Regions from separate parts of the Homo sapiens genome. Here all the other regions are linked to region 3. Evidence: fine-mapped expression QTL. A gene starts in region 3. Each other region holds a variant in brackets. All regions are shown on one strand. Distances are between the middles of the regions.

Region 1 (2,722 bases), 26 kb before region 3:
GGGCCGGGCATGCCACGGGTTAAACGCGGCTCGGCTCTCCGGGAAGCACCAGACCCCCTGCCAGAAGAGCCCAGCTCCACCATCTGGAGCTGCAGGAAGAGAACTTTCTTGGGTGCTCTGTGCAAAGGGCTTGTGATTGTTTCGCCCTAAAGGAAGCCCTGGGAAGAGGTAGAGTTCCGCACGAGACCACGGCCTCACTGCTTCTGCTGTGGGAGCCAGGGTAGGAAGTCCCAGAACAATGCCTCTGGGGGCTCTTGCAGCCAGGCCAGCTGTCCCTAGAGCAGGGGCAACCTCCCCCTCTAACAAGGTGGTCTTTCCCATTCCCACTTAGACTGTGGGCAGCCTCCCTGGAACATTCCCCAGGGATGTCCAACAGTCTCCCCTACCAGGACACTCCTCTTGCCACCAAAACTCAGGGGCTGAAACCTTTCATGATGGGGTTATTTTCTGCAGCACCTTAAAAATGAACTTGAGATATAGAACCTTCTGGCACATTTGTGTGCTGTGAGGCATGGCTGTGCTGAGTGGGGCCTCAGGAAACAGGTCATGCACCTCCTGATACCCCTGCTGCTCTGGGATGCCACTGCCCACTTCCTGGTGCTTAGAGACCATCGCCACCAGCAGAAGATCCTAGGGCAGCCTAGAATCTGCAGAGCCTGTCCCAGTGATCACAGAGGCGTCTCCAAGGCAGTCCCAAGGACTCCCTGTCCCTCAGGACATCCCGGGGGCCTCCTGGCTGGTGTGGGGATACAGGAGTCTCTCGGGAGGCTCCATGATGCAGTCCTTCAGAACCTCCGCTGCTTCCCTGGAGGGCAGGATGGGTGGCTTCTGGGTCCTGGGCTCCTCCACATAGAGGGCTCCCATCTCCTCCTTCCTGAGCCTGGCGCCTGTGAGGGAGGAAGGAGAATACAATTAGACTGACTGACAGTGACCGCCTTCCACATCCAGCTTCGCCCAGGGGCTGTTTGGTGAGGAAAGCTTGGCAGAACAGACTGAAGTCAGGACCACGACTGCTCTTTGCAGCCCTCATCTGTTGCTACTCTGTTCATTCTTTTATCCTGAGATAGGGGATCTCAACTGGGGGCGATTTTGTCCCCCAGGGGCCATTTGCCAATGTCTGGAGATGATTTTTGTGGTCACAAATGGGGTGTGTGCTACTGGTATCCAGTGGTTATCTAATAGGTAGAGGCCATGGATGCTGCTCAAGTTCCCACAGTGAACAGGAAGGGCCCCCAACAGAGATTACCCAGCCCCAGCATCAACAATGCCAAGGCTGAGAGCCCTGCCTGGAAGGAGGCAGCGGTGCGTAGTTTGGCAGTGTTTGGACCAATCTGTGCTGGTCCTGTTGTCCCTGTGGAAAGAGTAACTCGCATCAGGGCACACCTGACATCATTTTTTTCTCCTTAGCACCCACAGGGCTGGACACAGAGCAACTCACCCAGCCCTCTCTCGGCTTTCCCTTTCTCTTATCAGTGAGGGGTCTCTTTTCTTATCCCCACCTGCCCTACTGTGGCTTCAGGGCCACCTTGCTTCCTACAGAGCCTCTGTCAGCCATGAGATCCAGTCCCATTTCTGGTGACCACAGACTCAGAGGTGAAAACTGGGAGCAGCAACAGCCGGAAGGAGGCCAGCTAGAGACGCGAGGAGAGAGAGCACTGGGAGCAGCAACAGCCGGAAGGAGGCCAGCTAGAGACGCGAGGAGAGAGAGCACTGCTCCATCCTTGTCAAGTGGTCGC[G/A]AGTGGTCTGGAGAACCCCAACAATGGGCATATTTTCTTTGGTTTTCAGTGACTACTTGAAGAGAAAAATTTCCTGTCTGTGGCTTTCAGTAACTTGCCCTCCCTTCTAATACAGCTTCCCCCTCAAGCAAGTTCTTGACCCCAGCCCTCCGGTCCAGAGAGGCTGTTTCTGTTCTCCCCTGCCCCGTGAGATTTCTGCCTGAAAGCCCCACCATCTCCTCCGCATCTCACCTCCTCCACAGCCACATGGACCTCTTCCCTCTTGAAAATTCCTGCACGGTCCAGAGTCTATACAGCCCCACTTAGAATGTGATGGCGCTGCCTGGGGCTGGTCAGCCCTCTCCTTACTCCCAGCAGTGGTCTTGACCTTTAACTAGTACCATTTGCACCACCTGCCAGGCATTGTCCTGAGTGTTTTCCACACACAACTCATTCGGCAGATGAGAAACCAAGGCATCAAAGGACAGACTTGCCCAAGGCCACACAGCCAGTTGGGGGCAGAGCCAGCACAGCACTGTCACCAGGGCAGACAGGCTCTAGAAATGCACGCTCTCTGCACTAAGCCCTGCTGCCTAGAGCACATGTGCGTCATCTCCCTGGCAGGGGTGCAAGCTCCTGGAGGGTGGATGTCACGCATCGAGTACCCACTGGCCTAGCAAATGGGTGGGTGCATGACAGAAGCTCCACAGGCACCTGCAGTCCTGTCTTATTGGCCTCTGGCTCAGCATGAGGCTGCCTTGGGGGAGCTCTGCCACGTGTACTTACTTGCAGGGGAGCGGGCTGGCACCTGGGCACAGGTGTAGACATGGCTGAAACGCCGGCCTGAGGAGGTCAGGTACCAGTGCTGGATGGCGGGCTGGGGGTCGTACTCCGTGACGGCCACGCCGTTCACAGCTGTCATCATGAGCATGTTGAGCACCTCGTTGGAGAGCTTGGTCCTCTCATCGGTCCTGATTCGGTTCATGGCCTTGAACCCCCGCTCACAG
Region 2 (2,754 bases), 44 kb before region 3:
GTGGTACTGTCTGGAGAATTATCGTGGCTCCCTGCTCAAGCCTATGACTCTAGGGCCACCATCTCTGACCTCGGCACCATCCACCCCCAGCAATGCGCAGATTGGACGAGGGCTCGCTAGAGACTTCATCCTGCACGCAGGCGCTGCCCTCTGTTGGCCATACTCTTTGTGTGCAGCTTAACTTTTCTTGGTTACCTTTACTTTTTTTTCTCAGTGGCTTTGTCCTCTGTCTCAGCGTGGCCTCCAAGGCCACTTCCTGCTCTGCCACTTGGTATGGTTCAGGGCTGCCCTGCTCTCAGTCACGGCCCATTTTTAGAGCTTTTTTGCATCGTGTAGGTCCGTGAGCATCTGTGTCAGAGGCTGATATTTACTGATGTGCCTCCCACATTGGGGATGGTGTTGGGGGCACGGGTGGGGTTTGAAACTGATAACTCTAACAGAAGTTGGGTACATAGTGACTGTGTCCAAACCCCTGCACCAAGAGACTGGACCAACCCTAGCATGGCTTCTGGCAGCCCAAAGCGGCATCCCTGGGACCACCTGGCCACCCTTTGAGTTCCTGTCTGAAAAAGCTCAAGGCCGTCAAAATCATTTAGTGTTTGTTCCTACCAACACCTGACAACAGGCCTCTGACCACCCCCTCACTTTCTTAGAGCATTTACGTTAAAAACACTTAGAGTCGTACCTCCTTCCCTTGTCCCTTTGAGATGTACATGCATGTGTGTCCAGGAGTGTCTTTCTCAAGAGCCTGAGAGCCAGTCCTTTGAAATGGCATCATCAGGAAGGATGGGGCCTGTCTCCCAGGCTCTGGGGGAGGCCAGAACCTAACTTCCATCACTGCCAGCTGGCACACACAGCTGGCCCGGCCACAATAACACAGACAGCCCTTTGTAATTTTTCACTCCCATGATTCCTGAGCCCTGGAATGCCCTTTCCCGACTCCTACGTTCTCCCATTAAACTGTCCAGTCCCCCTGCACAGATCTGAATGGAGCTCAGCTTCTCCCCTGTCAGTGGTTAATGAATAAGGTCTGTTTTCGTAGCTTTAACTAAGGTCCAGCTTAGTTTATCTTTGACAGACCTACTTACCCTGCAGGTTCCCACCTCGGGCCTGGAGGGAAAGCCTCTGGGAGGAACACGGTCCTCACCAAAGGGTGGGAGACCAGATCGTGCCAGGGAGTGGAGTGGACATGAGCTCTGGGACCCTCTCCTCTCTCCCGGAATGGCTGCACAGGAAGGAAGGATGGAAGATGTGAGAAAGGCCACCCTGCCTGGGAAGGAGCTACCAGCCCTCAGCAGTCCAGAGGCTGCCCAGAGAGCAG[C/G]GAGCAGCTCTCCAGGACTCCACCTCCCAGGCCCAGAGGATGCCACCCAGGGGGCTCAGTGAGAATTCAGCCACAGCCACACACATCCCGGGAGAGTGTCTAAAGATGCCACCAATCCAATATCACAGAAGGCAAGAACCCAAAGAGCAGAAGCCGAGACAAGGAAGTAGCCATTTTGGATACATGCCCCCCACCCCAATCCTGGGCCAACGTGGATCTTCAGCATCCTGAACCTGAAGCCCCCATGGTGGGCCTGTGGCGGGCTGGGTGTGGCTTCAGAGGTGCAGCGGCAGGAACTGGCAGAGTGGTTCCCCCAGGCCCAGGGCTGACCCACAGCGACATGGGAAAATGGGCCCAGTAGGTCCCTCCTTGTTTAGCTCCCTTTGGTCTTTCCAGGTCCAGCTTCACTGGGTCCACGGGGTCCCCATCCTGAGGTCACTGTGTTTCTCACCCCCCACCTGCCCACTCGCTCCCAGCCCACTGCAGTCTGACTTTACTGCCCATCACCAAAGATGCCAGCTGACCTTGACTTCTTGGGGGTAGAGGACAATGGGGGTCTGTGTTACCTCAACCACTCTCTCCTGTTGAACCTCTCATCCTCCTGAGTGACACTCACCTGGTTGTCTTCCGGCTACCTGCAACCTCCCGGCATCCTCCACAGGCCACCTTCACCCACCCACCCCGTGAACTCACACTCCTTGGGGTTCTCTTCTGGGTTTTTCTCACTCTGAACCCCCTGAGCAACCTGCACCCCTCAGGGATCACCGGTTATTTATGCCGATGGCTCCAACTCTGCCTCCTGCAGCCTCATCTTCCTCCTGACCATCCGCCCCACCGCCCAGCCAGCCACTACCTACACTTCCACGGGGTGCCCTGGACACACACGACTCACCAGGAAACAAAGGAACACCTCAGCTCCCACAGCCACTCTCAGACCTGCCCCTGCTGCACTCCCCACCACGGGCAGCCTCGGTCTCTATGGGTCACAGCCAAGCAGCTCCCCCCTCGCTTCTCTGTCCTCACCACTTCCACCAGGGGCCCTAATAAAGATGTCAAACCAGCCTGCCGTCCACTGTGCAGCTTGTAGAGATAGATAATGCTAGAAATCCAGTTGGCCATGTCACGGCCCTGCTTTAAATCCCTTTCACGGCTCCCATGGCCCTTGGGATCCATCCAAGCTCCTCAGCTGGCTTTCCGCCCTCAGTGCTCTGGTGCCTCCATTGTGCGTCTTCCAGTCCCGCCCCACCCTCCTGTCCCTCCAGGGAAGTTCTTTCAGCTCTGCCCTGGGCTACAGGCTGGGCTGGAGGGCTGGGCTCCCTCTGCCCACTTCCCCACTGGACCTGCAGCGAGATGTGCTGGCAGATCCCAGCCCTAGGCTATTTCATGAAGGAGGCTTTGAAGCCTCTGGCGACCTGCTTCACTGCAGGAGTCCT
Region 3 (2,703 bases):
CCAGAAAGATGTTAGTCCCAAGAGGCTGCCACTGTCTCCAAGCTAATGTGCCCACAACCACACTGGTCTTGGATGACACGGCCTGGAAGCGCTGGCAATCCCGTCAAATCCCTGAACTCCGCCCCCAAGCACTTTCTTTCCACCTTTTCTTCCAACTCAAAGCCTCTTGCCCAAAGCCAATTTATGACACAGGTTTCTAAGCAATGCCCAGATATTCCATGAAGTACATAACCTAGAAACAGAAGTGGCAAAAAGCATGCCAGATGCCCTCTCTTTTCAGCCCTTTCTTGGTAAGGAGGATCTAGGCAGGGTCAAGCCCTCAAGCGTCCCACCCTGCAGCTCCCACTGGCGTCCGATCCAGACTCCAAGCCTTAGCAGGGCCTCTTCAAAACGCCGAAGGTGGTGGGGAAAACAGGAAGCACCTTCGCATCGCTCCACTCGGGGGTCACCCAACCCAGCATCGACCCAGCGGACGCTCGGCAGCTCGGGGAGGATGCGCGGACACCGAACGGAAGCGTCCGCTCCTCTCCGCCACCCTCCCGGGGTCGGGCGCCGAAGTGCGGGAAGAGAGGGCGGGCCGGCGAGTCCTTCCCTGCAAGCCTGGCTCATCTGCGGGGCCTCCGCCCGAGCCGCCCCGCCTCGCCCGAGCCCGGCTCGGGGATCCTCGGGAGGGAGCGGGCGGCCCCCGGGCCTTCCAGTCCTACCTTCCCCGACTCTCTGGGCTCCATGGCCCCGCTTTCGGAGGCCCGTGCCGCCCCCTCCCCCCGCGGCCTGGCCTGAGGATGCAGCCGCCGCGACCGCCCCGGGGACCCAGGCTCCCGGAGGGGGAGGGCACCCAGGTAGGGAGGGAGCGCGGCCCAAGAACTTCGCTCTCTCACGTCGGGGGGCGGTAGCGCCGGTGGACCCAGGATAAGCGCGCTGAGCTGAGACTTGCGTCGCACCGAGCGAACAGCTTTACGGTCACTGCCCAGCCCCAGGCGGCGGGGCGTGACGGGAAGTGTAGTCCGCTCTAGGTGAGCGGCTCTCGAAGCTGCTATTGGCTCCCGGAACGCAGGTCCTGATTGGACGCCGGCGGCGCGCTTGCGACCCTCCCCGCCTCCCTCCGGCGACAGTTACTAGGCAACGGCGGCGTGGCGTCCTTTAGTCCTCTGCAGCAAGGGCAAAGCGCTCTGATTGGGCTACGCGAAGGCCAATGTCAGCCTTGAAGTTCTAGGTTTTCTTTTATTAAGGAGGGCAATACTTTTTGTTCTATTCACTCAAAAAGTATCATTGGTTGCCTACCATGGGTCAGGCCGTGTTCTAGGGTTTGGGAGAACACAGTTGAATGAGACAAAGGCCTTGCCTTCAAGGAACTCACGATCTATTAGGGAATCAGACCAGAAACAGATAATTACAAAACAGAGACAAGGGCTATGAAAGAGGTAAGCACAAAACATGAATTAAAGCCCGCGTTGTCACCTTAGAGTGAAGCGGTGGGGGATATGAGGTGCTTAGTCAAGGATTTCCTGCGGAAGTGATGCCTCAGCAGAATTAAAGCAAGAGGTAGGGTCTGCCAGGTAAAGGAGGTGCAATGGACTGACCGGTGTTCCCCTCCCAGGAGATGGGGCGTTTGGGAGGTTTAGATGAAGTCGTGAGGGTCAGGCCCTTATGGTGGGATTAGTGTCCTTATAAGAAGTTTTGTCCAAGTGCGGTGGCTCACACCTCTAATCCCAACTCTTTGGGAGGCTGAGACAGGAGGATCACTTGAGCCCAGTAGTTTGAGACCAGCCTGTGCAACACAGTGAGAGATCCCATCTCTATAAAAATAAAATAATTTTGTGAGGTGGAAGGATCACTTGAGCCTGGGTGGTCGAGGCTGCAGTAAGCCGGGATGGCGCTTCTGCACTCCAGCCTGGGTGACAGAGCAAGACCATGTCTCAAAAAAAAAAAAGACTTTTAGGGGGCCAGGGCAGGGATGTGCCTTCATGAAGGTGTTAGTGACCACATGCGTGCTGGGGGAACTAGCTAGGCCCTTTGCCCTTCTGCCCCTCTGCCTTCTGCCATGTGAGGACAGAGCAAAAAGGTGCCCTCCTGGAAGCAGAGACCAGGCTCTCACCAGACACAGACACTGCTGGTGCTTTGATCTTGGATTTCCCAGCCTCCAGAATCATAAGAAATAAGTATCCATAATTTATAAATTACCTAGTTCCAGGGATTTTGTTACAGAAGCACATAGAGATTAAGACAATGGTCAACTAATTTTTTTGTATTTTTAGTAGAGACAGGGTTTCACCATGTTACACAGGCTTCAAGTAAGCGTTTTCCATTATCCAGCTCTGCTCTTCTGGCCAAGGTTGAATAGACCTAAATTCCGTTCGAGGAGTGTAGGGGAGTCTGCATTACTGAAAAAAAGAATGAGACACAAGAAATGTGGAGGAGAAGGCAGAGAGTGAGGACTCTGTGGATTCCAAGTGGCCTGCCACTCACCACCTCGACTATATCACTACCTTGAAGAGCTATATTTCTGCCCATGAGTTATCCATGTCTTTATAACAGATTCTCTTTTAGGGGTTAAAAAACTGGAGGACAGCTAGGGTAAATCATTCTTTTGACACATTTTTCCATAAAAGGTTTTCCATCTTTCCAAGAAAAATGGAGCAGTATCTAGGGGGAAATGGGGAATCAAAGCAGTAGGACTAAGATATGAGTCACAAGATCTTGTTT

What was found. PIP is the estimated chance that this variant, and not a neighbour inherited with it, causes the effect.
Region 1: its variant is fine-mapped to the expression of ZNF862 in blood mononuclear cells (TOPMed, PIP 0.99).
Region 2: its variant is fine-mapped to the expression of ZNF862 in whole blood (TOPMed, PIP above 0.99).

The regions. Positions count from the first base shown.
Region 1 is chr7:149,862,274-149,864,995 of GRCh38, reverse strand. It overlaps ZNF862 (zinc finger protein 862), which reads right to left. Exons shown (of 8, transcript NM_001099220.3): 7 at 2,502-2,722; 8 at 1-887. The coding sequence ends at 712. Among named protein-coding and RNA genes, the nearest start is that of ATP6V0E2-AS1, 10 kb to the left of the region's middle. The variant G/A (reference allele first, on the strand shown) is at 1,737.
Region 2 is chr7:149,880,987-149,883,740 of GRCh38, reverse strand. It overlaps a transcript of ACTR3C not described here. Among named protein-coding and RNA genes, the nearest start is that of ATP6V0E2, 8.4 kb to the right of the region's middle. The variant C/G (reference allele first, on the strand shown) is at 1,322.
Region 3 is chr7:149,836,637-149,839,339 of GRCh38, reverse strand. ZNF862 (zinc finger protein 862) reads right to left here and starts at 965. Exons shown (of 8, transcript NM_001099220.3): 1 at 705-965. The coding sequence starts at 728. RefSeq lists a silencer at 430-889.